4 linked regions of the Homo sapiens genome follow. The protein of the gene in region 1 purifies or fractionates together with the protein of each later gene. This does not show direct contact. Each region holds a gene or a part of one and is shown in the gene's direction. Other genes may lie near its edges. The genes, in order: AP1S3, AP1G1, AP1G2 and AP1M2.

Evidence for each region.
Region 2: the proteins of AP1S3 (region 1) and AP1G1 purify together in Homo sapiens (affinity purification with mass spectrometry; 2 studies listed by BioGRID and IntAct, with this or other methods). This does not show direct contact.
Region 3: the proteins of AP1S3 (region 1) and AP1G2 purify together in Homo sapiens (affinity purification with mass spectrometry; 2 studies listed by BioGRID and IntAct, with this or other methods). This does not show direct contact.
Region 4: the proteins of AP1S3 (region 1) and AP1M2 purify together in Homo sapiens (affinity purification with mass spectrometry; 3 studies listed by BioGRID and IntAct, with this or other methods). This does not show direct contact.

What each region holds. Positions count from the first base shown.
Region 1 is NC_000002.12:223,833,996-223,842,422, reverse strand, and holds the start of AP1S3 (AP-1 complex subunit sigma-3), read left to right. Parts: upstream 1-4,840; 5' UTR 4,841-4,972; coding exon 4,973-4,975; intron 4,976-8,427. UniProt on the Homo sapiens protein: Subunit of clathrin-associated adaptor protein complex 1 that plays a role in protein sorting in the late-Golgi/trans-Golgi network (TGN) and/or endosomes.
Region 2 is NC_000016.10:71,728,351-71,736,468, reverse strand, and holds the end of AP1G1 (AP-1 complex subunit gamma-1), read left to right. Parts: intron 1-1,761; coding exon 1,762-1,860; intron 1,861-3,309; coding exon 3,310-3,411; 3' UTR 3,412-7,469; downstream 7,470-8,118. UniProt on the Homo sapiens protein: Subunit of clathrin-associated adaptor protein complex 1 that plays a role in protein sorting in the late-Golgi/trans-Golgi network (TGN) and/or endosomes.
Region 3 is NC_000014.9:23,558,272-23,565,114, reverse strand, and holds the end of AP1G2 (AP-1 complex subunit gamma-like 2), read left to right. Parts: intron 1-274; exon of another isoform or gene 275-388; intron 389-454; coding exon 455-553; intron 554-726; coding exon 727-782; intron 783-893; coding exon of another isoform or gene 894-951; exon of another isoform or gene 952-955; coding exon 956-1,069; exon of another isoform or gene 1,070-1,258; coding exon 1,259-1,399; intron 1,400-1,476; coding exon 1,477-1,531; intron 1,532-1,612; coding exon 1,613-1,735; intron 1,736-1,832; coding exon of another isoform or gene 1,833-1,910; exon of another isoform or gene 1,911-2,016; intron 2,017-2,521; coding exon 2,522-2,611; intron 2,612-2,699; coding exon 2,700-2,827; intron 2,828-3,007; coding exon of another isoform or gene 3,008-3,023; exon of another isoform or gene 3,024-3,038; intron 3,039-3,048; coding exon 3,049-3,153; intron 3,154-3,241; exon of another isoform or gene 3,242-3,479; coding exon 3,480-3,603; exon of another isoform or gene 3,604-3,683; coding exon 3,684-3,819; exon of another isoform or gene 3,820-4,018; intron 4,019-4,696; coding exon 4,697-4,860; exon of another isoform or gene 4,861-5,078; coding exon 5,079-5,177; exon of another isoform or gene 5,178-5,264; coding exon 5,265-5,366; and 2 more. Other genes in the region: THTPA (thiamine-triphosphatase), read right to left, coding at 6,275-6,420.
Region 4 is NC_000019.10:10,583,851-10,591,904, reverse strand, and holds the start of AP1M2 (AP-1 complex subunit mu-2), read left to right. Parts: upstream 1-4,592; 5' UTR 4,593-4,673; coding exon 4,674-4,715; exon of another isoform or gene 4,716-4,750; intron 4,751-7,834; coding exon 7,835-7,991; intron 7,992-8,054. UniProt on the Homo sapiens protein: Subunit of clathrin-associated adaptor protein complex 1 that plays a role in protein sorting in the trans-Golgi network (TGN) and endosomes.

The sequences.
Region 1 (8,427 bases):
CCACTATGTCTGGCTAATTTTTGTATTCAGTAGAGATGGGGTTTCACTATGTTGGCCAGGCTAGTCTCGAATTCCTAACCTCAGGTGATCCGCTAGCCTCAGCCTCCCAAAGTGCTGGGATTAGAGGGGTGAGCCACTGTGCCCAGCCTAGAGTGAGGTTTTAAAATAACACTTTTCTGTGTTTTCCAAATCTGCAATGAACCTATATTATTTTATAATTAAAAATTTTCTGAAAATATTCTTTAGAAATATATTAAGTAGAGTTTTTCCATTTGGAATAATAGGCCCTCTTTTGAAAAGTAAAGGGGGTTTCTAAAGAGCATAAGGCCTCATACTAAAAGTTTCACCATGACAAGATGAATTTCTGAATGCTGCAGAAGGGATTACTGGAGATGTTGATTACTTAAGACATTAATAAGAGGGCATTAAAGAACAGCAGGACCAGGCTTCAATTAATGCCTGTGAAGGCACTGCATAAGCCGACTTTGAAGTTGGCCTCTCCTTTGCTTCTTTCAGTTTCTTAAACTCACAGCTTGATCTATCTCAATTTCTGTGAAGTCAGTATTTTGGTTTATAGATTATTATTATTTTACTTTATTATCAGGTCCCTAACTTGCTCTTCTCCCTTGCTGTGGACTTGATGGTGGCTTTTGCTGCATTCTCTCTGCATCTTCTGCTAATATTTAAATATAGAATGATCTGAGAAGTGAAACTCCTAAATCAAGTTGACCAAATGCCAGGGCATTGTTTTATGAGTAAATGTACACACACAGAATCACATGCACCAGCTCATAAACAACCTAACCGGAACCATGTAACACACTGTACTTGTCTTCTAGGACATTAGATTTTGAATCTAAAAGCCTCTTTAGGATCTGACCAGGGAACTCCTCTTTAGACTGGTACATCTTGAGTGATAGGGCCTCTGGGTCCTCCCTGGGGTTTTGCTATTTGTGGGCCACGTGTGGAGTCAGGAGTTTGAACAGAAGCAAAGATGGGATACAGAAGTCAAGACTAAGGCTGGGTGTGGTGTCCCATGCTTGTAATCCCAGCACTTTGGGAGGCCAAGACAGGAGGATCCGTTGAGGCCAGGGATTCTCGAGATCAACCTGGGCAACATAGTAAGATCCCATCTCTACAGAATTTTTTTTTTAAAGGAGAAGTCAAAGCTTAAAAATGCATGTTATTCTTCTGAGACAAATGACTGATGAAATAAACACTGCTTAACTCTCACTGTTGCGTTCTGAGTAGGTCTGTCAGGGGTAGGGCTTTAGGGGGAACCATCTTGAATCTTAGTGCCTTGATTCTAGGCTTATCCCTGCCTCTTATTAGCTTCTTTTTACACTTAGTTTATTATTATTATTTTTAAAATAGAGATGGGGTCTTCCCATGTTGCCCAGACTGATCTCAAACTCCCGAACTTAAGCAGTCCTCCTGCCTCGGCCTCCCAAAGCGCTGGGATTACAAGCCTGAGCCACTGTGCCCGGCCTGCCTCTTATTATTGCTGTTGAGCCTCTGAGCCTCAGGCTTTCATCTGTACCATGGCCACAGTGCTTCCTTTCTTACGGATTGTTTTGGGGGCAGCCAAGATAACCCTGTGAAGTGTCCAGCTCACTGCAGGCCTCCCTCTTCGGTGATTTGGGGTATGGTGTGAGAATCTGGAGGAAAAAACACTGGGTGGCAGAGGCCCCAGAGAGCATCCTCTGCCCATCTCAGCCAGGCCAGGAGGAAAGGCAAAGGACACTAATAATTTTTAAGTTACCTGCCCCCCTCAACCTCTACATCTTTAATTACACCCCCTCCAACCATAAGCCACACAGTAAGGGAAACTTCTCCTGCTTTATTTTTTTTAATTTTTATTTTTTGAGATGTAGTTTAGCTCTTGTTGCCCAGGCTGGAGTGCAATGGCACAATCTCGGCTCACTGCAACCTCCATCTCCCAGGTTCAAGCCATTCTCTTAGCCTCCCAAGTAGCTGGGCTTACAGGCATGTGCCACCATGCCTGGCTAATTTTTTGTATTTAGTAGAGACAGGGTTTCACCATGTTAGTCAGGCTGGTCTCAAACTCCTGACCTCAGGTGATCCACCTGCCTCAGCCTCCCAAAGTGCTGGGATTACAGGCATGAGCCATCGCTCCTGGCCTTTCCTGCTTTAATATTTGACTTAACTGTCATGGCAAGAGCACTGAGATGATTTCTTTAGCTTTTTTTTTTTTTTTTCCTTTTTTCTTCTGCGAGAATCTCGTAGTGTCGTCCAGGCTGGAGTACAGTGGGGATCTCGGCTCACTGCAAACTCCGCCTCCAGGGTTCAAACAATTCTCCTGCCTCAGCCTCCTGAGTAGCTGGGATTATAGGCACCCGCCACCACACCCAGCTAATTTTTGTATTAGGGGTTTCACCATTTTGGCCAGGTTGGTCTTGAACGCCTGACATCAGGTGATCCCCCCGCCTCAGTCTCCCAAAGTCCTGGGGTTACAGGCATGAGCCACGGCGCCTGGCCTGAGATTTCTTTAGCTTTGTAATTCACCTTTAGTAATTCCATTTCTTTCCCACTAGCAAAGAAACCCTTACAGCACAAGGCTCTGGATGGTGGCACAGAGCTGGGCCCTGCCCTGAAGTTACCTAGAAAGGAGGAGAAGCACAAAGATTAGATTCTATCTAGTTAGATAAAGCATGATGTACTGAGAAAGGGAAGGAACAGACCCTGGGGGAAGAACATAGGAGTTAAAAAGTAGCTGTCCTAGATTCACTTTTCTTTCAGGAAGCAAAATCATCCCATCGCCTGGGGTTTAACTGTTGTCAAATAGTCCTCTTCCAATGCCCCCGGCAGAATGCCACAAGTCCAGGTTTGAGAGCTTTGAGGCTGGAGGCTGTGGCTCTCCTGGGGGCTTGCAGTGATGCCCTAATGTAGAGAACACTCATTGCCTCTGGCCCCTGCCCACCTCTAGGCCTCCTGGCACTTAACTCACATAGAGGCCTTTTTTGAAGTGTTTCCAGAAGGACTTTTTTTTCTTCTTCTTCAGAGCGCTGGCTTCTCACATCCAAGTCTTCTGTCACCTCCCCAGGGGGCACTTACCTGACCACTCAGCTAAATCAATGTAGCTTCCCTGTGCCCATCCGAGGAACTCAAATATCTCCTTCTTAGCACTCATCTTAATTTCTTATATTTTATTTACTTGTTTATTATGTGTTGTCCCACAAGAGACGTAAGCTCCAGGAGACAGACCACCTGTTTGTTCCCAGCTGGGTCCCCCAGGCTCCTGTTGTAGGGCCTGGCCTAGAGTGATGAATATTTGCAGTGTGAATGCAGGGGTGGATGGAGTTTCCCATATTTTCAGTCACCTGGGTGGGCCTACATCCCTAGGAAGGTACACAACACATCCTGGGAAGGACTTTCACTGATTTGGGGTTCCAGGGACCACCCAGGAAATGACATTTTTTTTTTCAGACTGAGTCTCACTCTGTTACCTAGGCTGGATGATCTCAGCTCACTGCAACCTTTGTCTCCCGGGTTCAAGCGATTCTCTCCTGCCTCAGCCTCCCTAGTAGCTGGGACTACAGGCGTGTGCCACCACGCCCAGCTAAATTTTGTATTTTTAGTAGAGACGGCGTTTCACCATGTTGGCCAGGCTTGTCTCGAACTTCTGGTCTCAAGCGATCCGCCCACCTGGGCCTCCCAAAGTGTTGGGATTACAGGCATGAACCATCACGCCTGGCCCAGGAAATGATTCTTAACTTTTGCAGGGTCTAGGATCTCTTTAGCTATTTGATAAAACCAGTGGACTCCCTTTCTCAAAAACATGAATATGCATTAAAAACTCTGCTTACATCTAGTCTATCTGGTAAATATAATTAAAAGAAAAAAGAAAAAACTCTGTTTACAGCTTGGGGGTTTAGAGACTCTCAACGCCCTAGATTTAAGAAAAGTCAAGGGGAGGAGAGATTGGAGAACGAACTTTCTACACCACAACTTCTTAGGAGAGACTTCTTAAAAGGGGGTCGTGCTGCCGGGCGCAGTGGCTCATGCCTGTAATCCCAGCACTTTGGGAGGCCGAGGCGGGTGGATCACCCTGAACGCAGGAGGCGGAGGTTGCAGGGAGCCGAGATCGCCCCACTGCACTCCAGACGGGGCGACAGAGCGACACTCCGTCTCTAAATAAATAAATAAATAAATAAATAAATAAATAAATAAATAAATAAATGGGGGCCTGCTTAAAATGATCTTTGCCCTTAGACTGCAGAGCTTACTTTTTAAAAAGTGAAATGGGGGCAGAAGGGGATAAGAAAACGCTTCTAGTTCTTTCTCTTCCAACTGCTCCCTCCCTAGGAGGCTTAGGATAAGGCAGCCCCCGGCACTTTCTGCGAGTGTATCGGAAGTATCTTTGCCAGGTTTGATAAACGTTTGCGGAAGGAATACAGGACACACTCGCGCGGCAGAATCGCGAAAAGTCCCCGGTGTTCTCCGCGCAGGGAGTTCCCCGCGCAGGGAGTTCCTAGCGGGCCACGCGCTCTCGCCTGACCACCCGCGCCGAGCTGCGGGCTGTCGGGGTACAGACGCCCGCGCGCGCAGGTGCATTCGCTCCAGGTGCGGCCGGCTCGGGGCGGGAACAGCTGCAGCCGAGGCGGGGGCGGGGAGGGGGTACAGAGGAGAGGCAGAAAGGAGGGAAGAGGAGGAGGAGGAGGAGAAGGGAGGAGAAAGGGGAAAGGAAGAAAGAAGGAGAGCAGGAGGGCGAGGAGCGGGGGGAGCGGGGAGGAGGGCGCGGGGAGGAGGCAGCGGGGAGGAGCGTGCAGGGAGGAGGCAGCCGCGCTGGGAGGAGTCTGCACACTTTCAGTGCCAGGGCATTGTGGGAAGCAGCCATGGTCTAAGCCGGGCGCCTCACCTGTCAGCCGCACCGGCTCCAGCGCTCGCCTCTCGCCCTCGCTTCTCCAGCGCTCCTTGCTCGCAAGGCGGGGGAGGCGGCGGCCCAGCCACGATGGTGAGTGCGGGGGAACCGCCGGCCCGGGTAGGCGGTGGGGGCGCTCGCGCTCCGGGGAGGCACCTGGGGCGTCCGGGCCGGGCGCGCGGCCGGGTGGGGGTGCGGGCCGAGTCCCGCCTGGCCACCCGAACCGTGCGTCCCTGTGGCCCCGCTGCCCCAGACGGTGCGGACGCGCCAGGATCGCTTGCCCGGGATTCCTGCGGCAACGCGGCGCCGCGGCGCCGCGGCTCCATTCATTCATTCGATCCGCCTTAGCCGAGTGCTTAGTCTGTGCCGGGCTCGGTGCTGGGCGCTGGGGATGTCGCGGGGGACCAGGAGGAGCCCCTGTTCTCCAGGAAGCTTACCTTCCAGGAGGGGGATGCGGAGGGAGGGACACGTCCAATATACAAGTAAAATGAAGAGAACTTCTAAAGTAAGAAGCGCTGTAAAGTCTCAAATACAACCGGGTGGAGTGGCAACTTTTGATTTGGCAAAGCCTCTTCAAGGACATGACATTCTAGCTGCTGGAGGTCCTGGAGGGGCGCTACAGGTGGATTAGAGAGAGCAAAGCGGAGGGGAGAAGGCCTTGTTTGTGGCAGGAGAGGTGGGCTTCTGCCAGGTGAGGCGGGTTTTTATAGGCCAAAATAAGGAGTTTGGTTTTGGTTCCAACTGAGTAGGGGAAACCTCGGGGACGTTTTAGCAAGAAAACTGACCTTACCCGTTGTGCACTTTTGTTTTTTTGAGACTGATCTCGCTCTGTCGCCCAGGCTGAAGTGCAGTGGTGTGGTCTCGGCTCTGCCTCCCGGGTTCAAGCGATTCTCCTGCCTCAGCCTCCCGAGTAACGGGGATTACAGGCGTGTGCCACCACACCCAGCTAATTTTTGTATTTTTAGTAGAGACGGGGTTTCACCATGTTGGCCAGGCTGGTCTCGAACTCCTGACCTCAGGTGATCCGCCTGCCTCGGCCTCCCAAAGTGTAGGGATTACAGGGGTGAGCCACTGCACCCGGCATGGTGTGCAGTTTGGCTGTGGTTGGAGAATGGACTGGGGTGTGTAAGGGCAGGGGATAGGGGGTCAGGTTGGAAGCTGAGGCCGGCCGCAGCCCTGCTGATGAGAGATCTGGTGACCTGCACTTGGGTGGAAGCGATAGCTCAGGCTCCTCTTGCTCTTGCCTGCTGTTTAGGGGCAGCCTTTTAAGAGTGTGGTGGTCTGAACGTCACTAGTCCCACTTCCCCAAGTGTGTTACCACTTCCCAAATCCGCAGAAGGGAAGTGACCTGCACCCTGTGGGCCCACCGGAGGCAGGAGTGGGTGGGCCACGTGGGCTAAGAAAGTTGATCAACAAAGAGAGCCGGGGAGTGCTGAGCACCTGGCCAGCAAGACCGCAGTTGCTGGTTTCTGTTAAAGGTTTGGCTGCACACACTAGCGGCATCATTTTTGTCTGTTGAGGGTTCCTTGTAAATACAGCGTGATGCAAAAACAATGCTGTAAATAATGGAGCAGGTTTCTTGGCTTGCTCAAGTTTCCCAAGGAACAAGGTGACAGATGCCCAGTCCACCAGTGTAATTTGCCTAACAGAGGCTGGAATAAGGCCCTGCGTTTCTGAGTCATCAAAGGCTGCTTTTGTGCTGAGGAATGGGCCAAGGTTTGGTCTATAAGGAAAAGCTGCTCCTCTGGACAATACCTGTGGTGGAGTTTTATTTTTTCTTGCTGGTGTCATATGTGTGATGAGTTGATCAGAAATGTGGGAAGTTTCTCCAGCTTTTCTACCAGTTTTTGCTAAATGGGAAACATTATTATTATTTTTTTTTCTTCGAGACGGAATCTTGCTCTGTCACCCAGGCTGAAGTGCAGTGGCATGATCTTGGCTCACTGCAACCTCCATCTCCCGAGTTCAAGCAATTCTCCTGCCTCAGCCTCCTAAGTAGCTGGGATTACAGGCGCCCGCCACCACGCCTAGCTAATTTTTGTATTTTTAGTAGAGACGGGGTTTTGCCATGTTGGCCAGGCTGGTCTCAAACTCCTGACCTCGTGATCCACCTGCATCGGCCTCCCAAAGTGCTGGCATTACAGGCATGAGCCACCGCACCTGGCGGGGAAACATTAATGTTATTGGGCATTTGTGATAAGACAAGCAGGATGTCCTGCTCTTTATATTCACGATCTCATTCAATCCTTGCAACAAACAATTGAGGTTAAATCTGTTATGCTCATTGCATTTTAGCTACTCTGAGCTATTCTAGCAGTATGGCCTTGGACAATTCCTTGACCTCTCTGTCTCAGTTTGCCCATTTGAAAAATGGAGATAATATCTCCTAACTCATAAGGCAGAGGTTCTGAAAGTGTGACCTGGGTACCCCCAGCAGTCCCCAAGACTTTTACTGGAGGTCTGCAAGGTCAAAACTATTTTCATAATAATACTAAGATATTAATTTTCCCATTTCATTCTCATTCTCACAAGACTACAGTGAAGTTTTCTTGTGTCTACATAAGCTGAGATAGTACAACAGATTGAACACAGATGCAGATAGGAAAGTCCAACTGTCTTTGATAAGCCCAGACATTAAGGAGATTTGCAAAATTGTAAAACAGTGCCATGCTTTTCACTAATTTTTTTTTTGCTTTGGAAAAATATTGTTATTGGTCATAAAAATGTTATTTATGTTTAATGTGTAATAGGTTTACTATTGTTTTTTCTTTTTATTTATTTATTTTTGAGACAGGGTCTCTGTGTCGCCCAAGCTGAGTGCAGTGGTGTGATCACAGCTCACAGCAGCCTCAACCTCCTAGGCTCCAGCAACCCTCCTACCTCAGCTTCTTGAGTAGCTGGGACTGTAGGCATGTCCCACCATGCCCAGCTATTTATTTATTTATTTATTTTGAGACAAGGCTTGTTCTATCACCCAGAGTAGAGTGCAGTAGCATGAACATGGCTTACTGCAGCCTCAACCCAGTGGACTCAAGGCATCCTCCTACCTCAGCCTTCCATGTAGCTGGGACCACAGGTGTGTGCCATCATGCCCAGGTAATTTTTTGATTTTTGTATAAATGAGGTCTTACTTTGTTGCCTAGGCTGGTCTTGAACTCCTGAACTCATGTAATATTCCCACCTTGTCCTCCCAAAGTGCTGAGATTATAGGCATGAACAATTGGGCCCAGTGGAATTTTTTACTTTTTGTAGAAATGAAGCCTACCTATGTTGCCCAAGTCGTATTATTTTAAAATATGTTAATATCTATTTTTTCATTTTAATTTCAAATACAATAAATATCAGTGGATATAACCCACATAAACAAAAAGGTCTTTGGGATTGGCAGGCGGATCACCTGAAGTCAGGAATTTGAGACCAGCCTGATCAACATGGAGAAACACTGTCTCTACTAAAAATACAAAATTAGCTGGGTGTGGTGGCGCATGCCTATAATCCCAGCTACTTGGGAGGCTGAGGCAGGAGAATCGCTTGAACCCGTGAGG
Region 2 (8,118 bases), on another chromosome or scaffold:
ATGGAGCTTGCAGTGAGCCGAGATCGCACCACTGCACTCCAGCCTGGGCGACAGAGCGAGACTCCATCTAAAAAAAAAAAAAAAGTCATATTTTATAGGTTCTACTATGTACTAATTTCGTGTTTTAATGTTTCTAAAATTAGGATACATTTAAAAATTGGTATCTTGTCATAATTCAGTGGGCAGCATGTTTTCTATCTCAGTGGTACATAAAATAATGGTGTGAATTACGATTGGTATCTTACATTTAATGAAATATGGTAGTAATGAATAATACTTTAGCTTACATAATTTTAATGTGGCAGAATTATGAATAAGACCATATATATATATATATATATATATATATATTTTTTTTTTTTTTTTTTTTGAGATGGAGTCTCACTCTGTCACCCAGGCAACCTCTGCCTCCTGGGTTCAAGCAAATCTCTTGCCTCAGCCTCCTGAGTAGCTGGGATTACAGGCATGCGCCACCATACCCAGCTAATTTTTGTATTTTTAGTAGAGATGGGGTTTTGCCATGTTGACCAGACTAATCTAGATCTCCTGACCTCAGGTGATCTGCCCGCCTTGGCCTCCCAAAGTGCTGGGAATACCGTGCCCAGCCCCCAGTGTAATATATCTGTACATTGAGAGTGAATCTTCACTCTTGCAACTTTTGGCCCTAGAGAAGACTAGTGTCTCTCTCTCTCAAATATTTTAGAAGTTTAATCTACTTTTAGGAAAGATTTTCAAATGCTAGTTCATACAATAGCTACGTAGTACAGTATGGTTTACCTAGCTTGCCCTATATAGCACTTTTTTTTTTTTTTTGAGACGGAGTCTTGCTCTGTTGCCCAGGCTGGAGTGCAGTGGCACAGTCTCGGCTCACCACAACCTCCTGGGTTCAAGCGATTCTCCTGCCTCAGCCTCCCGAGTAGCTGGGACTACAGGCATGTGCCACCATGCCCAGCTAATTTTTGTATTTTTAGTAGAGACGGGGTTTCACTGTGTTGGCCAGGCTGGTCTCGAACTCCTGACCTCGTGATCCGCTCGCCTTGACCTCCCAAAGTGCTGGGATTACAGGCTTGAGCCACCACACCCAGCCAGCACTTTCAACTCTTATTTCTATAAGCAAGCAAATAAACCCCACCAGCATTCAACAAATTAATACTGTTTGGCTTATCTAGGTCTTTTGCTGTATAGGCTGGTTCTGCAAGTCTTTCCGTTCCTTCTGTCATGTGGAGAGGAGGCTCTGACACATTATAGATTATGCAGGCTTTAAAAAACAAAAGTTCAAGTCTCTGCATCCCAGTTATCCAATCACACAAAAGCCTAAAAGCTTATAGTTGGTGACCAGTATGTTGGTTTGCTATTTTTGGGAAGCTTTTCTTTTCATTTCTTTCTGGCTGTTTTTTAAGCCAAAAGCACCGATATTTTACTTGCATAGTTGATCAGTTACCATTAAGTGAAGTTGCCAGAAGAAGAATTGGTCAGCTTTTGAAAAGAGGTAGGCTAGAATTCCTTCTGCCAGAAAGGAGAATGTGGTTTATTACTAGTTGTCATGATCAAAGAACCGAACAGTGGATTTTTACAAATACCACAGGGAGTCAACTCACGTGCTGTGAATTCCTGATATCTAGAAAACAAGTAGTAGGCAAAACTTAGTAGTAGTGAAATCTGTTGCTTGACCCATCATCTGGGTGTCTAAATGGTTTTTGGTATCTCTGACCTAGCGTTGTGTAATTCTTTTTCTGAAGAGTGCCCTTTGTTCCCCCCTAGACATTCCAGCTGCAGCTCTTGTCTCCTAGCAGCAGCATTGTCCCAGCATTTAACACGGGGACCATCACACAAGTCATTAAAGTTCTGAACCCTCAGAAGGTGAGTAGCACATTTGTAGCCAATATCTGAGCCGAAGTGTAAGCATATTTCCCGAAATAAAATTCTGCTTTGTTTCTTTAGGTTTTTCTGACTCATAGTTAGAGAAGAGATCAATGAAAATGCCTGGTCTAACTTCCTTGCTCTTTTGTAAATAACAAATGGAACCCAGAGACATCAGGTGGCTTAGTGGCATCTTATTAAAATGCAACTTCAAAAAAAGCTAGATTAAAGGTCTGGTTTTTGGGGGTAGGGGAGAAGCTTAGACATTTTAATTTATACACAAGTTGAAATCTGAGGTAAGAGCATTTGTTGAAACCAAATACCTACATTTACTGCTACAGTTATTAAGTATGAATAGAAAAATAGAGGCATTTTAAATGAAGCAGCCAAATGAAAAATAGCTTTAGAAACTGAAATTAAGCAATATTTTTATTATCTCTTCTCAAAGAAATAAGCTCACCTTAATAGTAATCAGTTGGTTTTCAGTTTTTGAAAATGGTTCAGAGAATTTCTTTAATAGAGCTCTACTAGTTGCTCATAAGTAACAGTATACTTTCTTTCTCTTGTAACACTTGCCTTTCCTCTGCTATTCACTATATTTTGAGCATCGGCCTCTATAGTACAAGCACAAACTCCTTTGACCATCTGATACAGAGAGTAAAAAATGTCTTAGTGCATTTGTATTTGAAATCTGCCATACAAAAAGTGTCTAATTGAGTTCTCTTAAAACTACTGCTGTTACCTGTGAGTTAAGTCATTTTTTAAAATTTTATGCTTTAGGAACAAAAGGTCATGTTCACATTTACTGTAGGTTTTTCAGATAAAGCAACAGTGTATCTGAATGGAGAGCGTACGATGAGTATATGTTCACCTCATTTTTTAAGAGACTTGGATACAAGGTTTGAATCTTTTTGAAAAGGACTCAGCAAAATGTTACTAGGAGAATGCTCCATGGTGGCTCACGCCTGTAATGCCAGCATTTTAGGAGGCTGAGGTGGGTGTATTATCTGAGGTCAGGAGTTGAAGACCAGCCTGGCCAACATGGTGAAACCCCGTCTCTACTAAAAATAAAAATATTAGTCTGGTGTGGCGGTGAGCCAAGATTGTGCCACTGCACTCCAGCCTGGGCAATAAGAACAAAACCCTGTTTCAAAAGAAAAGAAAAGAAAAAATGCTCCCAAGGAGTTCTGTCCTTTTAATGCAGTTCAAGGATTAAAGCTAACCGTGTATTCTGCAGATGCGCTTTCTCAACTTGGTGGCATGACATTGTTAGCTTCTTGGCTCAAGCCTAGAGTACTGGGTGTTTTTTGTTGTTGTTTACCTGTCATTCTTAACAGACAGCTTTGCTTTAAGTTTTGACCTCTAAGATTAAAAGTCTATTTGTGGACCGGACAGATTCTGGAGATTTCATTTCAGTATATAATTTGCACTTCTCTTTTCCTCTTATAGCAACAGCTGCGAATGCGGATCAAGCTTACATATAATCACAAGGGCTCAGCAATGCAAGATCTAGCAGAGGTGAACAACTTTCCCCCTCAGTCCTGGCAATGAGGGTTTGGCACCATTCTCATTCTTTATCCCACTCAATCAAAGGAACTCTGGGAAGGAGGTTGTGATTGCTGGCAAGTCCCCCCCAACTGTACCACGGGCATGAGGAGCTGAAGAGAACTGCTGAGGAGGATTTTCCTAAAGTTACTGCTGACCTTGAAGCATTGTTAAAGACTAATGTCCTCTCCTCCACTGTTGAGGCTGGCTGCTTCTGGAGGCTACTTTGCACTCTTCCTCTTCTCCTTTTTCCGCACTTCTCCACCCCTCCCACATTTACAGCCAGAATCAACATTCCCTGGGCCCCTGAGGAAATAAGCAGCTGGTCTGGAGGAGAGGACTGCAATCCATGGCGAAAAAACACTCACTTTGTCTCTGCAGCAAAGAGTTGCCCCTTCTTTCTACTGTTGTTTCTCTGTGGACTGGGCAAGGTGGGGTATTTATTCCTCACTAGCTGGGTTACCATCTTCAGGCACTTTTAACATCTGGCATTCGGAATGGAAATGTAATAATGGACATTAGGGAGCCCTGCCTTTTTCTACTGGTTCCCCCAATGTTTGAAAGAGGCATTAGGCTCCTGGTAGCCTTTTCTGTGCATTGCTGTATACACACAGACACACACATGTATGTTTGTTACCAAGAACTGGTCAGACCTTGCGAGTTTATTTGTAAACACTGGACAGATGGAGTTAAAAAGAGCTTTTGTTGAGATTTGGCATGAAGGATATGGTGCTCTATTTGTAATAGAAACTTCCAAGGCTCTTCCAGCTCCCCTTTCTCGCCATTCTTTAGCTGTAGTCATGAATAGTCTCCATGATTTTCAAAATTGATTCCCTTTAAAGTGCAAAATGGTCACCTTCTAAAAGATATATTCATAGTTATTAATGACCCTATTCCCACCACAAATTTTAAAGTGCTCCTAAGCCCATAACTTGCCTGTTTGAACTATGGTAATGGGTGGAAGAGGAGTTCACCAGTTTCAAAGATCAGACTCTGTATCAAAAGTACCTTTGCCCTTAGGAAGAGTGAGTATTGGAGTCATCTTATCTATTACTCCAAACCTCCCTTTTTATTTCTTGAGCCTGGCTTGGACCTTGGCATTCCGTTTGAATTCCTTCTAACTGGAACATTTGTGTTGTATCTGTAACACTGGCACTGAAATAAAGACCACACGGTTAAAGAAATCTTTCCATATTGTACTTTATGGTGTTGGAGTGAAGCCTTGTAGCTTCCATACCCCTATGTCAGAGGAGGTCTTACGGACACCATAGGGTAGGAATAGCCTTTCCTCAGTCTGAGAAATTGGTCTCTTTTAAAAGACGAATCTCATGAATATTCACATCAAAGACTTGAGCTTTTTAAACTAGTGAGAGTGCCAAGTGCTTTTTAGAAAGGACCCATATGTTATCAAACTTTGAAATTGAGTTGCTGGAATGAAGTAGAGGTGACTCTCTCTGTGGTACACATTGAATGTACTATGTATGTTCAAGTATTCAGGCGCCATGTCTTATATACTGAAGAAAGAAAAAGTGAGGCCCACCTTGCTCTTACAATGTTTGCAATTGTTACTGTATTGAATACAGTATAATGACTACTATGGCTTCAATCTTAAACCTGGAAACAAATATCCCTTTTTTTCCCCTTCATTTCACCAAGCCTTTACTTAAAATCTTCAGTGTCTTGTCAAATCTAGCTCTGTATCAGATGCTGGAATATTCCTAACATTTGACAAACTGGAGTTGAACTAAAGGCTCCACGGGAAAGTTTCTGGTCTTACTAGTGTGTATGAGCAAGATCTGCTAAAACTTACTCCACTGGGTAAATGGTTGACTGAGTCAAGAACAGGATAATATCTCCTGCATAGTTTTCAGTAATGTAAGTGTGGACTAGTGCATATTTCAGACAACTGCTCTGCCTGTGCAATGAAAAATAGCCTTTAAGGGTTTCTTTGCAGACTGATTTCATTGGATGGATACTTAATGCTGTGAAACATGATAGGATTAACATAATGTTGGTGGATTTCTTGAATAGAATTTGTCTTAACATTCCTCTTTGTGTAGAGGCTTTATTTTCTCTCTTATATTTGTAGCTAACCAGCTCAGGTTTTTTTATTTGAACTGGGTTGAATCTCTGAAGAAATCTGTTCAAGACCATGCTATAAGACACTGTCAGCTAATGGAGCTGGGAAGGGTCTACTCTGCTGACAGAGCATTTCCTTGGGTGATCATAGTTTCGAGGTAGAGTTTATGATCATTCATAGCTTTGTCTAGAAGGAGTAAAATATCATGGCCTTAACACAAAGGGTGCTGCGTAGAATATGAATTGATTTTGGAATCAGAACACAAGCACCATACTGAAGGACTAGCAGCCAAATAACTGCCTAGGATACTGATGGTTGTGAAGACTGTTTCAAATGATTGGATCTTTGAAAGCTTCAGCGTGCCTTAGTTTCTAGGATCAGAATTAGTTTTCCTCTCACTTGGCCTTGCAGCTAAATGGAGAAATGTTTCAATTTCTTTGAATACTTGCACATTTCAATAATTCCTTTCCCGAGTATAACCACTCAAGGGGGAGCAAATTTGGATGGATTTACGACTTCACAGGCATTGTGAGGAAAGAGCATTTTCCAAGGCTGTTTTGATAACCCTGGGGTGATAAGCAGTGAGCCCTCACACACTTACTTTGACAATTTCACATGCACTTGTACTTCATTATTTCCCTCTTCAAGAGTCGTTTCTATTCTAGTTTCTGCCCCATCCCGGGGAATCCTAAAGGAGAATTAATTCATCTAAGTAATCTCAAAAAACTGTAGGAAGGGTGCTCTCCCTGAGAAGCTTCTCCCACAGTGCTTTGGTGCTGTTACCTTGAGGTGGTTTGGACAGTCACGGAAGTTTTAGGCTGTGCATAGTGATCATCTGTTAATTTTAAGGTCTTTATCATTTAAAGAAACATTCCTCAGTGTAACATTTGGGAGGGGATTCTTTCCTCTTGCTAGTTTAAAGGTGTGATTTGTACTCCTTGTTTGTCCCATTCATATATGAAAATAGACTTTTAAAACTGTCCAACACTAATGGTTTATATAACATGCTTCCCATTTTTTTTATGTCGTAGAAATTGGAAGTTAGGGAGTACTGCTTTCAAGGTTCAACTTCATTATCTTCTGCATTGGAAAATATTTGGGCCATGAGAACTAGGGGAAAGGAGTTTGAATGTGTCTATTTTTTTCTAGTGAATGTATTTTAACCACAGTGTCCTAAACTGAGAAAACTAGAGAGGAAAAAGTGGGTGTTCATGAACTTTGTAGTTGGGAGAGTGGTTTTACATGTCTGTGTATTCATGACTTTGGGAGTGGGTAGGATCATTGGAGAGAGAATTGCACAGAAAGTCCTGAAGTTTAAAACACTTTTGACCAGCTTTGGCTCGGGAGAGTGGGGCTGCTTGTAGAACTGGAAGTGAATAACTTTTTCAAGCAATATCAGTGAGTGGGTCCCATCGACAGGGTTCCAGGACCTGGAACACTTTAACAGAAGGAAATGCCGAAGCAGCTTGCACAGTTGCTTTACAGACTTCCAAGAGGCTGATTCTGGCTTCAAGATGGAGCCTTGGAGTTGGTTTTTTTTTTTTTTTTTTTCTTCCCTCAAAGAACCTGCGGTTGCGCTTTGTGTGTTTTGTTTTTGTTTTCCATTTGGGGGCCCCATGGGAAAGAGCTTCTGAACTCTTTCCTTTATGAACTCCCACTGTGTTCCTATAAAGGCCCTTTTCTTTCTTAGTGTTGTAAGTTACATTTTCATTATGCCCCATCACATCTTCTTTACTGTAAAAATATTAAAAAGCTGTTTCCAAGTGGGACAGCTAATGAAGCTCTAATTATTGCAGACATATTTTTGAGATGTAAAAAAAAAAATTTAAAGTTAAATGATAAGTCTTAGAGGCGAGTGAGGAATAAAATGGATGTAAACATTTACATGGGATGCATTAGAATTCTGCTGTGTGTACTGTCTTTTGGTTGAAACAAATTATGAACAGTGACTAATAATAAAAAGTCAATACCCAATGATTTAAAATTTGCTTCCTTGCTTCTTACAATTGGATTAGAAGACTTAGATGAATTCTTATTCCAGAGGTTGAGCTAACTTACTGACCTGTTAGTATTCCTTTCACACATAAGTCTCACCAAGAGAGGAATTTGAATCACTTAAAAACTTGTAGCCAGGCGCGGTGGCTCACGCCTGTAATCCCAGCACTTTGGGAGGCCGAGGTGGGCGGATCACCTGAGGTTGGGAGTTAGAGACCAGCCTGACCAACATGGAGAATCCCTGTCTCTACTAAAAATACAAAATCAGCCACGTGTGGTGGCGCATGCCTGTAATCCCAGCTACTCGGGAGGCTGAGGCAGGAGAATTGCTTGACCACAGGAAGCGGAGGTTACAGTGAGCCGAGATCACGCCATTGCACTCCAGCCTGGGGTGACAAGAGTGAAACTTCATCTCAAAAACAACAACAACAACAAACTTGTGTTATAGACAGTAAAAAAGTCCTAAGTGCAATTGGACATTTTAACTATAATATGATTAATTTCATGCTTAATCTCCATAGGTCAATTCTCAAGGCAGAGAAACCAAGATGAAATGTATATTAAGGGTGGTTATGGGTTTTCTTTATAAGCTGCTTTTTGTGAATTTTTCAAGTGTATCTGTGACTGGGCAGAGGAAG
Region 3 (6,843 bases), on another chromosome or scaffold:
GGCCTGGGAGGGCACTGGTTAGCTGTGTTGCTTGGAGACCCCATCAGCCCTGGGTGCCCCTCACATGACTCGTCACTGTGCAGTGGCCGTGTAATTGCCTCTCCATCTCCTCTAGACAGTGAACTCCATGAAGAAGGGACACAGTCTGTCTTAGTGCTATTGCCCCAGTGCCCAGGCTGGCCCTGGCACATAGTAGAGCCTCAGGGAACTTTGTTGGATGGTTGAAGGATGGACAGATAACATGTTGGAGTCCTTCAAGAATCCTGAGGATTACCTGGGCTTGTTGGCATGTGCCTGTAGTCCCAGCCACTCAGGAGGCTGAGGCAGGAGGATCATCAGAGCCTGGGAGGTCAAGGCTGCAGTGAGCTTTGGGCGACAGAGTGAGACCCTGTATCAAAAAAAGGAGACCTGAGGAGGGCCTTGAGCAGATACATCTCCTCTCTCATCCACTCAGGTGGCCACTAACACGGACACCAGCCGAAATGCCGGAAATGCGGTCCTGTTTGAGACAGTACTCACCATCATGGATATCCGCTCTGCAGCTGGCCTACGGGTATCACCCCTTATGCCTCTCCCACTACGGCCCCGCCCACCACCTCACCCACACAGGTCCTGCTTGCTGGTTTCTCCCTCCTAGCCCCATCATCTTGCGCCAATGTGTTCCCAGTCCTCAATGGCTGAGCAGGTTGCTCCTTTCCGACTGACCCCAACTTCTGCCTCTCATAGGTTCTAGCTGTCAACATTCTTGGTCGCTTCCTACTCAACAGTGACAGGAACATTAGGTAATAGTCCCAACTGTCTACCTAGGCTGTGCCACTGATCCCCTGGCCCTCTGCCCTCCTTCCTCCAGAGCCTCCTGATCCATTTCTCTCTTATCTTATCCCTATACCCAGGACAGGACGGGGAGTGGGGGCTGATGGCCATGGTATGATAGAACCTCCCCCATCCTGACCAGGTATGTAGCCCTGACATCACTGCTTCGACTGGTGCAGTCTGATCACAGTGCTGTGCAGCGGCATCGGCCCACTGTGGTGGAATGTCTACGGGAAACTGATGCCTCCCTCAGCCGGTGAGCAGTGATAGAGGGGACAGGAGGGCAGGGCAGAGGTTCCCAGTGCCCTGTGGCCAAGACTCGAGCCAGTTTAGAGCAGCTGGAGTAAGGGGACTAAGGGGGACAGGTCCCTGGGGAAGCAGAGGGCCTGAGGCATGGACCAGGATGACCTGGGCTACCTGCATGGAAACCTCTTTCTCCTGCCAGGAGAGCCCTGGAACTAAGCCTGGCTCTGGTAAATAGCTCCAATGTGCGAGCCATGATGCAAGAGCTGCAGGCCTTTCTGGAGTCCTGCCCTCCTGACCTACGGGCTGACTGTGCCTCAGGCATCCTGCTGGCTGCAGAGAGGTGAGGTGCCCAGGAGTCGAAGAGGGTAGAATCTGGGGAGCGTCAGTACCAGGACTGATGAGCCATATATCCCCTAGGTTTGCTCCAACCAAACGCTGGCACATAGACACCATCCTGCATGTGCTGACAACGGTGAGGCAGGGGCCAGTCAGAGAGCTGGGCAGAAGTGGTCAAGATTCACCACACTGACTTGGCCATGCCCACACCTTCCAGGCGGGCACCCATGTGCGGGATGATGCAGTGGCCAACCTGACCCAGCTGATTGGGGGGGCCCAGGAGCTACATGCCTACTCTGTGCGCCGCCTCTACAATGCCCTGGCAGAAGACATTTCCCAGGTACCATTCCCACCTACCTAGGCCCAGGGCTGCCCAACCACTCCCTTGCCCATCCTGGGCCACCTCCTCCCTACTAGATTCCAATTTTTCTCTCAAGGTCACAGCTGCTTACACAGTGCAGAAGACATCTGAGCACAGAGCCCTGTTTTTAAGAACATCTGGGCTTTTGTCCTGACTCTGGTACCTCCTGGTTATGTAACTACAGATGACTAACTTCCCTTATGCTCCATGTACCCTGACTGCCTCTTAGAGCTGCCTTGAGATTAAAGCTCTTGTGTTTATGAGGTTTTATTATTACCTTGAATGCTGAATGAATTAACAGATGCCAGCCAGTATCTATAGCCCCCTTTTCCATCTTAATTAAATAGGGTGGGCAGAAAGCATCATCCACCCCTTCCACAAGGGAGGGACCCTCTCACATTTCCATCCTGTTTGGTTAGGCCATGTAGTTCTGATGCTTGGCCACCAGAGGGCAGTGGGAGCCAGGTAACAAACTTCCCTTTCCCCACTCCTCCAACCCCCCACCATCTCTGCACTGCCTAAAGGGATATTGCCAGGTCTGGAAGTGAGGAGGGGACCTCAGACACTGGCCCAGCAGTGTTTCTTTCTTTCTCTCTCTCTCTTTTTTTTTTTAAAATAGAGATGGGGGGGGTCTCGCTTTGTTGCCCAGGCTGGTCTTGAACTCCTGGTCTCAAGCAATCCTCCCGCCTCAGCCTCCCAATGCGCTGGGATTACAGGCTTGAGCCACCATGCCTGGCCAGCCCAGCAGTTTCTTATCCCATGTAGCAACCACTGGTGCAGGTGGCAGCCTGGTGCATTGGGGAGTATGGGGACCTCCTGCTGGCAGGGAACTGCGAGGAGATTGAGCCCCTTCAGGTGAGACCTCATTGGGGGTACACTGAGGAGGGACTTGTCAGGGGGACAGGACTTGCACCAGGGCCACTAACTGTATCCATGTCTGAAGGTGGACGAAGAGGAAGTGCTGGCATTGCTGGAAAAGGTGCTGCAGTCCCACATGTCCCTGCCAGCCACTCGAGGATATGCCCTCACAGCCCTCATGAAGCTCAGCACTCGCCTCTGTGGGGACAACAAGTAAGAAGGGGTCCCAGCCCCTTGAGAGATGGCCTGTCACTGGGTCCACCCATTTTTGAGTTTCTTTCCAGGCATACATGCCCAGCCCTCCCTACCCCCTAGCCCTTAGGTTCTTGTTTTTGAGCCAAATCTGGGTATTTCCCTGCTCCGTGGGCCTTTCCTTCTTGCCACATCCTGCAGTGGCACACTGCCATAGCCACTTACATACTACACTGGCCCAGCCGCATCCGCCAGGTGGTGTCCATCTACGGGAGCTGCTTGGACGTGGAGCTGCAGCAGCGGGCTGTGGAGTATGACACACTCTTCCGGAAATACGACCACATGAGGTGTGTCCAGCACTGTGCTGCAGCATGGGACCCAAACCCCTGCCCTCTCCCAAATGCCCTTTTCTAGGTACAAGGGCCTCATCCTCACCTGTGTTCTTCCATATCCACGGTGAGAGCTTCCCACCCACTGTTAATTGAAGCTAAGCTGGCTTCCAACCCTCCTTGTTCATCTGAAAATCAGCAACAACATGTCATTTTAGGAAATCAGAAGGGTACTTCTGAGCCACCATGTGCCCAGGGCTCCATATTCCTAGTCCTCATCCTAGATGCCTCTTGTGAAAGGCCCAGAGACCACACAGAGGCACACTTGCATTCCATCCTCTCAGGGCTGCCATCCTGGAAAAAATGCCTCTTGTGGAGCGAGATGGCCCTCAGGCTGATGAGGAAGCAAAGGAAAGCAAAGAAGCAGCCCAGCTTTCAGAAGCAGCCCCAGTGCCCACAGAGCCCCAGGTGAGAAGGCTAGAAACTCTGGGGTAGGAAGACGGGCTGAGCTTCATACCCAGCCCTGCCCCTTCTGTCCCTTCTGCCAGGCCTCACAGCTCCTGGATCTGCTAGATCTCCTGGATGGGGCTTCTGGGGATGTCCAGCATCCTCCCCATCTGGACCCCTCCCCAGGAGGTGCCCTGGTACACCTGCTTGACCTTCCCTGTGTACCTCCACCCCCAGGTAAGCCTAAGCAAAGGGAAGATGTCTTAGAGAAGGTAGGTGGAAATGTACTGCTCCTCCTCCTAAGCCAAGGGCTGAGGCTCATGGACCCTGCTTCTTCCTGTGTGTCCCCCATCCCATCGCCATCTCAGGAGGTAAAAGAATGAAGTCAATCATGGTCATCTGTCTTCCCTTTGTTCCAGACTTCTTTCCCTGGCCTACAGGGCCCTGCTTCCTCCCCAACCCTTCTTATACCACTTTCCCACTACCCACTCACTGCCCCCTTCTCAGCTCCTCACACCCTCCCACCCTTGGCATTTCATGTTCTTTTTTACATGGAATGTTCTTTCCCCAGCACATCAAATGACCAGCTCATTCTCACTCTTCAGGCTTCAGCTAAAATGTCAGATGCCTTCCCCTACCACTCCTATTTAAGTCAGTTCTCCCCAGTTATTCTGGCATGACTTACTTCCTTCATAGCATCTATTATGGTCTGTAATTATCTTGCCTTTTTTTTTTTTTTTTTTTTTTTTTTTTTGAGACAGCGTCTTGCTCTGTCACCCAGGCTGGAGTGCAGTGGCGTGATCTCGGCTCACTGCAACCTCTGCCTCCCGGGTTCAAGCTGTTCTTGTGTCTCAGCCTCCCAAGTCCGGGCCTCAGGTGATCCACCCACCTCAGCCTCCCAAAGTGCTGGGATTACTGGCTCACGCCCGGCCTTTTTTTATTGTTTCTCTCCCCCATTAGACAGTAAGCTCCATCCTCATCTACATGTCTACTTTGTTACTAGCCTTTCGAGTAGTGCAGGGCCAGTAGGTGTTTACTCAATTTTTGTTGAATGAATGAACAAACATGTTCTCTCAAACCTGCACACTGAGCTGCTTCTGTCTCCCTACTCCAGCTCCCATCCCAGATCTCAAAGTGTTTGAGCGTGAGGGAGTACAGCTGAATCTGTCTTTCATTCGACCCCCTGAAAACCCTGCTTTGCTGTTAATCACCATCACTGCCACCAACTTCTCAGAGGGTGATGTCACCCATTTCATCTGCCAGGCTGCTGTGCCCAAGGTTTGTAAAGATCAGAGTTCAGAGGTGGCCTGGGGACTCCAGGAGAAAAGGCCACTAAGTGGAGGAGGTGGGTGGGAGACAGTGTGAGATGGGATTGAGTCATCTGGAGATCAGCACTTGGGGAGTTACAGGAAAAGGGTGTGGAGCCACTGAGTATAGAGGGGCTGCCTGAGCCCTACCTACTGCCATACTGTGCTCTGTTAAACTCCTGTGTTCAGAGTCTCCAGCTGCAGCTGCAGGCCCCCAGTGGGAACACAGTTCCAGCTCGGGGTGGCCTTCCTATCACCCAGCTCTTCAGAATCCTCAATCCTAACAAGGTGAGCTTCAGGAGTTCCCCCAAGACAAGACCCAGGGATAGAAGAAGCCGTGGGTGCTAACCCTGGTCCCTGCTCTCCTATTCCTAGGCCCCCCTGCGGCTAAAGCTGCGCCTCACCTACGACCACTTTCACCAGTCGGTGCAGGAGATCTTTGAGGTGAACAACTTGCCTGTGGAATCGTGGCAGTAACTGTCTCCACTCACAGCCTGAAATTCTCCTGTGTCCCAAACCCCAGGGGGCCCCAGCAGCTTCGAACCTACACCTGAGGGCTACCAGCAGGTGGCGCTCTGGCTTTGCACTGCAAAAACTGGGGACCAGCCCCCTTCTCCCACAAATAAAGCCCAATAAAGCCTGAGAAGTGAGGAAAGCCATATTTGGGTATATTTGAAGTGGAAAGTGTGTATGAATAACAGCAAGGGAAGAGCATTCTTACATAGGAGGTATGCATCTTCCCCTGAGCCTTGAGAACCTGTCTCAACACGGGGGCGGGGAGGGGGCAGCTGTTGGTTCTTTCTAACCCTCTCCAGGTCAGGGAACAAATTTGCCCCTAAACTTCCACAGGAGGCACTCTACCCTCTGGGCCAGAGCTGGGCACAGTGGCAAAGTCAGATTAGAATTTCTAGAGTTCTAACAGCGATTCCCAACCATTTCCTCAACTTTTCTTCTGTTTCCCACATCCCAAGGCAGGGAAATCCCTGCTGCCTCTCCTCATCTTCTAACTCAGCTGTAAGGCGGTTTAGGAGCCGCTGGCAGAATCAATGGCATCGACCAAGGGAGGGGGGGTGGCAAGGGATTTTCCTGTGCTTAACTACTGATCACGGCTAAGTGGAAATCCTATAAACACGAGCGGAAATCAATGGAGGCTGCTTAGCGGCCAGGGGAGAGGGGCGGCCCACAGATTGCATCTGACGGATGAGCGAGAGGAAGCAGCCAGGGAGGGCTCAAGGAAGAGTAGCTTAGAGGAGGGGGAAGAAACAGGCAGCGCTGGAGAGAGAGGAGTCACTGTCAGAAGGGACACTGAGGGGAGAGGCACAGTGGGCCCAGGAGTGGACTCCGTTAGACCCAGAGTTCCCTTCCCCTTCTAGGAAGTGACACCCCTAGCCCAGGCAGTGGTCAGGATCTTCAGTCTCCTGTGGCCTCTCTCTGGAGCTGTTCACTTCTAGCAGGCGCTGATAGTCTTGAGGCCGGAAACGCTGTAGATACACAATCAGCTTGGCTGGTGCTGTCTCCTGTGCAGGCACACCTACAGGTAAAAGGACAATGAGGAGAGAAATGGACAGAGCCACAAGCACTTGGACTCTGCTCCCTGCCCACCTAGCCAGGACTCCGTGGATGTTTCCAAAGCCACACTGGGGTTCTGAATGTCACCCACCCAGCTTCTGTAACACACTAGTCCACTCCCTGCCTGCCTGTGGAAGTGGGACCTAAAAGAGCAACTTCAGGCAAGAGTGGGACTAGAAGCCACACCTCAGCCTCTCTCCTCCAGCAAGGAGAAATGGCGAAGAGGCACCCAGGCACCAAGATAAACGAAGGATGCCTCAGCGTCAGCTCATTTCAGTTATTACCCTGTTCCGCAATCAAGATTAAAGCCCTAGACCAGGCCAAAGCTCATTAGCTTAGTAATGAAGCACATGCAGAGATGTACACATAGAAACCAAGAGCTATA
Region 4 (8,054 bases), on another chromosome or scaffold:
GCAGTGAGCCGTGTTTGCACCACTGCACCGCAGCCTGGGCGACAAAGCAAGTCCTTGTCTCAAATAAATAAAAAAAAAAAATAGGCTTCTGTAATTCAAGGGGCTGTCTTGAGGATTCCTGCATGGGCGACATTTAGGGCCACCCTCACTTATGGTGAGCACCATTTAAGCCAGAGTTAGTGTTACTAATAGTAATATTTGCATCCAGCAATATAGCAAAGCAGGCGGAAGCAGGCTGGGACCAGATTCTTAAATCCCGGGACTCAGATTCGAATTCTGGGTCAACTGCCTCCTGGCTCTGGGGCCGTGGGCTTGGGCAGGTGCCTTCACTTCTCTGTGTCCCTGCTTCTACCTTTATAAGATGGCACGAAGGAGACTTGTGCCAGATGATAACTTTTTATTTTTCATTCTATTTATTTATTTTCTTGAGACGGAGTCTCACTCTGTCACCCAGGCTGGAGTGCAGTGGTGCCATCTCGGCTCACTATAACCTCCGCCTCCCCAGTTCAAGTGATTCTTCTGCCTCAGCCTCCCAAGTAGCTGGAATTACAGGCATGCGTCACCACGCCCGGCTAATTTTTGTATTTTTAGTGGAGACAGGGTTTCGCCATGTTGGCCAGGCTGGTCTCAAACTCCTGGCCTCAGGTGCTCTGTCCACCTTGGCCTCCCAAAGTGCTGGGATACAGGCATGAAACATTGCTCCTGGCCCAGATGATAATGTTTTAATTAAAGTGCAGTGCTGCTGTCAATGTTGATGTTAATTTCAGGTGGAGAGGCAAGTGGATGATCCTGATAGCTGCTGTTCTCTAAGTCCCCACCTACAGGGGCTGATAAAGGGCTGGGCAGGGTTTGGGGAAAGGACAAGTGAGGTCTGGGTAGGCTGAGTCTTGTTCCCTGCAGGCCCTGCAGGACATCTCCCTCCCTCAGCCAAGCAAGGTGGTTCTAAGCAAGGCTGAGGTTTACTTTCCCTTTCCTTCTGCCCTGTCCTCAAAACTACCGCACTTTGGGAGGCTGAGGTGGGCGGATCACGAGGTCAAGAGTTCGACAGCATCCTGGTCAACATGGTGAAACCCCATCTCTAATAAAAATACAAAAATTAGCTGGGCATGGTGGAGTGCACCTGTAGTCCCAGCTACTTGGGAGGCTGAGGCAGGAGAATCGCTTGAACCCAGGAGACAGAGGTTGCAGTGAGCTGAGATCGCACCACTGCACTCCAGCCTGGCGACAGACTGAGACTCCATTTCAAAAGAAAAAAAAAAGGAAAGTCCAGGGGTGGAATCTGGGTCTGCAGCAGCTGGTGTGCACGAAACATGCATGGAGCCAGGGGCCATGCCAGGTATTTGGCTATGCAACTGCAGGAGAGGGCACCATGGCTGTTATACCCATTTAACATAAGAGGAGACTGAGGCACAGCAGGTGCATTCACCAGCCCATGCCTTATAGCCAGTGTGTGGTGGTATCAAAAATCAAACCCAGCATCTGTGCTCTCAACTGCTACATCATCATCCAGATCATCATCTTCATCCTCCTCCTTCTCAGCGACATGGTTGACAGTCAGCTACATCCAAGTTCCCTTCCAACACCACGTTGCACAGAATAACTCATTTAATCTGCACAAACCAGGCACAGTGGCTCAGACTACGCCTGTAATCCCAGTACTTTGGAGGGCCAAGGGGGGAGGATCGCTTGAGCCCAGGAGTTTGAGACCAGCCTGGGCAACATACCGATACACCATCTCTACAAAAAATGTAAAAATTAGCTAGGTCGGGCCGGGTGCGGTGGCTTACACCTGTAGTCCCAGCACTTTGGGAGGCCGAAGCGGGCGGATCACGAGGTCAGGAGATCCAGACCATCCTGGCTAACATGGTGAAACCCTGTCTTTACTAAAAGTACAAAAAGTTAGCCAGGCGTGTTGGCAGGCGCCTGTAGTCCCAGCCACTCGGGAGGCTGAGGCAGGAGAATGGTGTGAACCTGGGAGGCGGAGCTTGCAGTGAGTTGAGATCGCGCCATTGCACTCCAGCCTGGGTAACAGAGCGAGACTCCATCTCAAAGAAAAAAAAAAATTAGCTAGGTGGGCCTGGCCTGGCGCGGTGGCTCACACCTGTCATCCCAGCATTTTGGGAGGCTGAGGCGGGTGGATCACGAGGTCAGGAGTTCAAGACCAGCCTGGCCAAGATGGTGAAACCCCCGTCTCTACTAAAAATACAAAAAAAAAATTAGCCGGGCGTGGTGGCAGGCGCCTGTAATCCCAGCTACTTGGGAGTCTGAGGCAGAGAATTGCTTGAAGCTGGGAGGCAGAGGTTGCAGTGAGCAGAGATTGCGCCACTGCACTCCATCCTGGGCGACAAAGCCAGACTCTGTCTCAAAAAAAAAAAAAAAAATCAGCTAGGTGTGGGCCAGGCGCAGTGGCTCACGCCTGTAATCCCAGCATTTTGGGAGGCCAAGGCAGATGGATCACGAGGTCAGGAGTTCGAGACCAGCCTGGCCAACATGGTGAAACCCCATCTCTACTAAAGATACAAAAAATTAGCTGGGCTTGGTGGTGCACGCCTGTAATCCCAGTTACTTGGGAGGCTGAGGCAGCAGAATCGCTTGAGCCTGGGAGGCAGAGGTTGCAGTGAGCCGAGATTGTGCCATTGCACTCCAGCCTGGGCAACAGGACGAGACTCCAAATTAAAAAAAAAAAAAAAAATTAGCTAGTTGTGGCCAGGCGCAGTGGCTCACATCTGTCATCCTAGCAATTTGGGAGGCCAAGGCGGGTGGATCACCTGAGGTCGTGAGTTCAAGACCAGCCTGACCAACATGGAGAAACCCTGTCTCTACTAAAAATACAAAAAAAGTAGCCGGGCATGGTGGCGCATGCCTGTAATCTCAGCTACTCGGGAGGCTGAGGCAGGAGAATTGCTTGAACCTAGGAGGCATAGGTTTCAGCGAGCCGAGATCACATCACTGCACTCTAGCCTGGTAAACTAGAGCAAAATTCTGTCTCAAAAAAAATTAGCTGGGTGTGGCGGTTTGTGCCTGTAGTTCCAGTTACTAGGGAGGCTGAGGCAGGAGGATGGCTTGAGCCCAGGAAGTTGAGGCTGTAGTGAGCCATGATTGCATCACTGCAGTCCAGTCTAGGGTACAGAGTGAGACCCTGTCTCTACAAAAAAAGTTTTTTGGCTGGGTGCGGTGGCTCACGCCTGTAATCTCAGCCCTTTGGGACGCTGAGGCGGGTGGATCACCTGAGGTCGGGAGTTCGAGACCAGCCTGGCCAACATGGTGAAACCCCATCTCTATTAAAAATACAAAATTAGCCAGGCGTGATGGCGCATACCTGTAATCCCAGCTACTTGGGAGGCTGAGGCAGCAGAATCCCTTGAACCCGGGAAGCGGAGGTTGTAGTGAGTAGAGATCATGCCACTGCACTCCAGCCTGGAGTCTAAAAAAAAAAAAAAATTAGCTGGGCATGGTGGCGCTTGCCTGTAATCCCAGCTACTAGGGGTGCTGAGGCAGGAGGATTGCTTGAACCTGGGAGGTGGAGGTTGCAGTGAGCCAAAATCATTCCACTGCACTCCAGCATGGGCAACAGAGTGAGACTCCATTTCAAAAAACAAAAAAAAATAAATTTTTTATTTGAAATGAATAAGAGTAAATTTGTAAGAATAATAAAAGCAAGTACATTTGTCCTGCTCGGAATTATATCCACAGTTCCTGTTACTGAGTGAATGAATATTTCAAATTCAGTCAGTAAAATTCACCAGTGAAAATTATTATATGAATGAGTGAATGAATGAATTGGGCAAATTTTGAGCACCCAGTGCTGAGCACTAGGGACATAAACATGAACAAGACAAAGTCCCTGCTGTATGGGGGCTGACGTGTGTGGGTGAGACAGAGGAGAAAGAAGGTGAATGGATGGATGAATCAATGAGAGGATGAATGAATGGATAGATGGGTGGATGAATGGATAGATGAATAAATTAATGAATGCAAGAATGGATGGATGGATGGATTGATGAATGGATAGATGAATAAATTAATGATGCAAGAATGGATGAACGGATGGATGGATGGATGGATAGATGAATAAATTGATGAATGTTAGAATGGATGAATGGATGGATGAATGGAAAGATGAATAAATGAATGAATGCAAGAAGGGATGAATGAATGGATGAATAAATGGATGGATGAATGGATAATGGATAGACGAACAAATAAATGAATGCAAAAATGGATGAAGAAATGGATGACGAATGGAAGGATGGATCAATGAATCGATGGAAGATGGATTAATGAATGGCTAAATGAGTGGATGCGTGGATGGATTAATGAATGCAAGAATGAATGGATGGATGGACGAATGGATGGATAGATGAATGAAAGGAAGGATGAATGAATGGATGGAAGGATGGTTGATTGGTTTGGGGTCTCCACCCGTCATTACTCCTGGGTGGCTAGGGAAAGTGAAGGGGGGCAGCAGACCCATCTGAAGTCGCAGTACCTCTCCCGGCCCCGCAGCCATCTTCAAGTTGGCCGACAGCGCTGCTCACCTGGCCGCCTCCCCTTTAAGACGCACACACCTGGGCTCTCACCTGGGCGCAGGCGCTTCCGCAGGAAGAAGGAAGCGGCGCCGCCATCGCCTCCCGGCGCTCCCTCCCCGACTCCTAAGTCCTTCGGCCGCCACCATGTCCGCCTCGGCTGTCTTCATTCTGGACGTTAAGGGCAAGGTGAGGCTGGGCATGAGGAGTTGGGAGACGGACAGGTGAGGTCTCGCTCCCAGGGATTCAGGGGCGACCCCTCCGCGCGGGCCAGGAAGAGGTCTGGGAACACCCCCTCCCCCTGCAATCCCTGGGAATCCCACCTCCAGCATCCACTCGCCTTGTGCCTGAGGCCAAGGGGTTCGCCTCCTAGGGCCTCAGTTTCTCTGTATGTAAAAATGGGAGCAACAGAGGTCCCCACCCAATGAGAATTAATACAACTCGCTGCGTGTAAACTACTTAGCATAGTGGCCTTTCTGGAAATATTAGGGACTCAGCAAATTGAAATTATCTCCATCACTGTCGGCATCCACAGTGTTAATACCTGGGGAAGGCAACTGGAACAGGGGCCTCTAACTCCCCCCATCTGTGGCTGCCTTGCCTCTTCCTGAAGTCCTTTTATTCCTCTTGTCTTTTTTTATTTTGGAGACAGGGTCTCTTGCTGTCTCCCAGGCTTGAGTGCAGTGGTGCGATCATAGCTCACTGCAGCCTGGAATTCCTGGGCTCAAGCGATCCTCCTGCCTCAGTCTCCGGAGTAGCTGTGACTACACAGGTGCAGGCCACCATGCCTGGCTAATTCTTGACATTTTTTTGTAGAGGGATCCCGCTATGTTGCCAAAGCTGCTCTCAAACTCCTGAATATCTGGGGCTGCGGGCTGACCCCTCCATGCCCGGCTATTTTTAATTTTTTTTTTTTTTTTTTTTTAAATAGAGTCTTGCTCTGTCACCCAGGCTGGAGTGCAGTGGCTCCATCTTGGCTCACTGCAACCTCCACCTCCCGGGTTGAAGCAATTCTCCTGCCTCAGCCTCCCGAGTAGCTGGGACTACAGGTGCATGCCACCATGCCTGGCTAATTTTTGTATTTTTTTTTTTTTTCAAGACAGAGTCTCGCCTTGTCACCCAGGCTGGAGTGCAATGGCATGATCTTGGCTCACTGCAACCTCCACCTCCCAGGTTCAAGTGATTCTCCTTCCTCAGCCTCCTGAGTAGCTGGGATTACAGGCGCGCACCATCACGCCCGGCTAATTTTTTGTATCTTTAGTAGAGATGGGGTTTCACCATGTTGGGCAGGATGGTCTCAATCTCTTGACCTCGTGATCCGCCCACCTCGGCCTCCCAAAGTGCTGGGATTACAGACATGAGCCACTGCGCCCGGCCGCACCCGGCCTATTTTTTATTTTTATTTTTTTGTACAGATGGAGTCTTGCTATGTTGTCCAGGATGGTCTTGAACTCCTGGTCCCCAGCTATCCCCCTGCTTCAGCCTCCCAAAGTGTTCGGATGACAGGTGTGAGCCACTGCAGTCAGCCTGTCTTGTCATTTAATAGCCAAAATAAGAGTGGTGGTGAAAATAATATTCCCATTAATATTAATAGTGAGAGCTAAGATGTTTGAGAACCTGCCATGGGTCCTCCCTGTTCAGACACTGGACAAAACAACCTTAGGAAGTGGTTAACTAATTTTTTTTTTTTTTGGAGATGGAGTCTCGCTCTGTCACCAGGCTGGTGTGATCTCAGCTCACAGCAACCTTCACCTCCTGGGTTCAAGTGATTCTCATGCCTTAGCCTCCTGAGTAGCTGGGATTACGGTCATGCGCCAGCACACCAAGCTAATTTTTGTATTTTTAGTAGAGACGGGGTTTCATCATGTTGGCCTGGATGGTCTCGAACTCTTGACCTCATGATCCACCCGCCTTAGCCTCCCAAAGTGCTGGGATTAAAGGCGTGAGCCACCGTGTCCAGACAGAAGTGTTTACTATTATGGGTGTCTTCCTGACTACCAGGCACAATCATATGAACTGTCATCTTTCTTTCTTTCTTTCTTTCTTTCTTTCTTTCTTTCTTTCTTTCTTTCTTTCTTTCTTTCTTTCTTTCTTTTTTTCTTCTTTCTTTCTTTCCTTCTTTCCTTCTTTCCTTCTTTCTTTCTTTCTTTTCTTCTTTCTTTTTTTGACAGGGTCTCACTCTGTTGCTCGGGCTGGAGTGCAGTAGTATGACCACAGCTCACTGTAGTCTCGACCTCCTAGGCTCAATTGATTCTTCTGCCTTAGCCTCCAGAGTAGCTGTGACTACAGAGGTGCAGGCCACCATGCTCAGCTAATTCTTGAAATTTTTTGTAGAGGGATCCCGCTATGTTGCCAAAGCTGGTCTCAAACTCCTGGCCTCAAGGGATCCTCCTGCCTTGGTCTTCATGAGTGAGTCATTGCACCTGGCCTCTTCTTTGTTTTTTTTTTTTGTTGTTGTTGTTTTTTTAAATAATCCCACTTTGGTGCAAATGAAGTCTGGGGCAACAGCAGGGATTCTGGACCCAGGATGCCTTAGATCAATCCCCAGTTTCCATATGCTTCCAGTGGACATGGTTTCTAACCTCACTTCTCCTGTGTGAAATGGAGATGATGATAACATCTACCCCACAGGGTTGTGGCAAGAACTAATAAGTTAGTAAACATCTACTCTTTTTTTAGTAGCCAGCCTGCCTGCCTACCTTCCTTCCTTCCTTCCTTCCTTCCCTCCTACCCTCCCTCCTTCCCTTCCTCCCTTCCTTCTTTACTTTCTTTCTTTCTTTCTTTCTCTCTTTCTTCTTTTGAGATGGAGTCTTGCTCTGTCGCCAGGCTGGAGTGCAGTGGCACGATCTCGGCTCACTGCAATCTCCGCCTCCCAGGTTCAAGTGATCCTCCTGCCTCAGCACCCCGAGTAGCTGGGACTATAGATACACGCCATCACGCCCGGCTAATTTTTTGTATTTTTAGTAAAGACGGGGTTTCACCATGTTGGCCAGGATGGTCTCGATCTCTTGACCTCATGATCCACCCGCCTCGGCCTCCCAAAATGCTGGGATCACAGGCGTGAGCCACTGCGTCCAGCCATCGCCTACCCTTTAATAAAACACAGCCTGGCACTTAGTGAGGGCCCTAGACCCATTAGCTGTTGTCATCACACTCCCATTTTACAGAGCAGGAAACAGGCACAAGGAGGCAGAGCCTTGCCCAAGCCCCTCAGCTAGGAAGTAGGGTCAGAACCGGGCACTGTGCCTCCTCAGCGTGGTAGGTTCTTGGATGCTGGTGGTGACCAGGTCCTTTCCTTCCACCCTCAGCCATTGATCAGCCGCAACTACAAGGGCGATGTGGCCATGAGCAAGATTGAGCACTTCATGCCTTTGCTGGTACAGCGGGAGGAGGAAGGCGCCCTGGCCCCGCTGCTGAGCCACGGCCAGGTCCACTTCCTATGGATCAAACACAGCAACCTCTACTGTATCCACCCCACGTGGTGTCCCTGGAGGTGGGTGTGGGGGCTGTCGGCGATGGTGGCAGCTC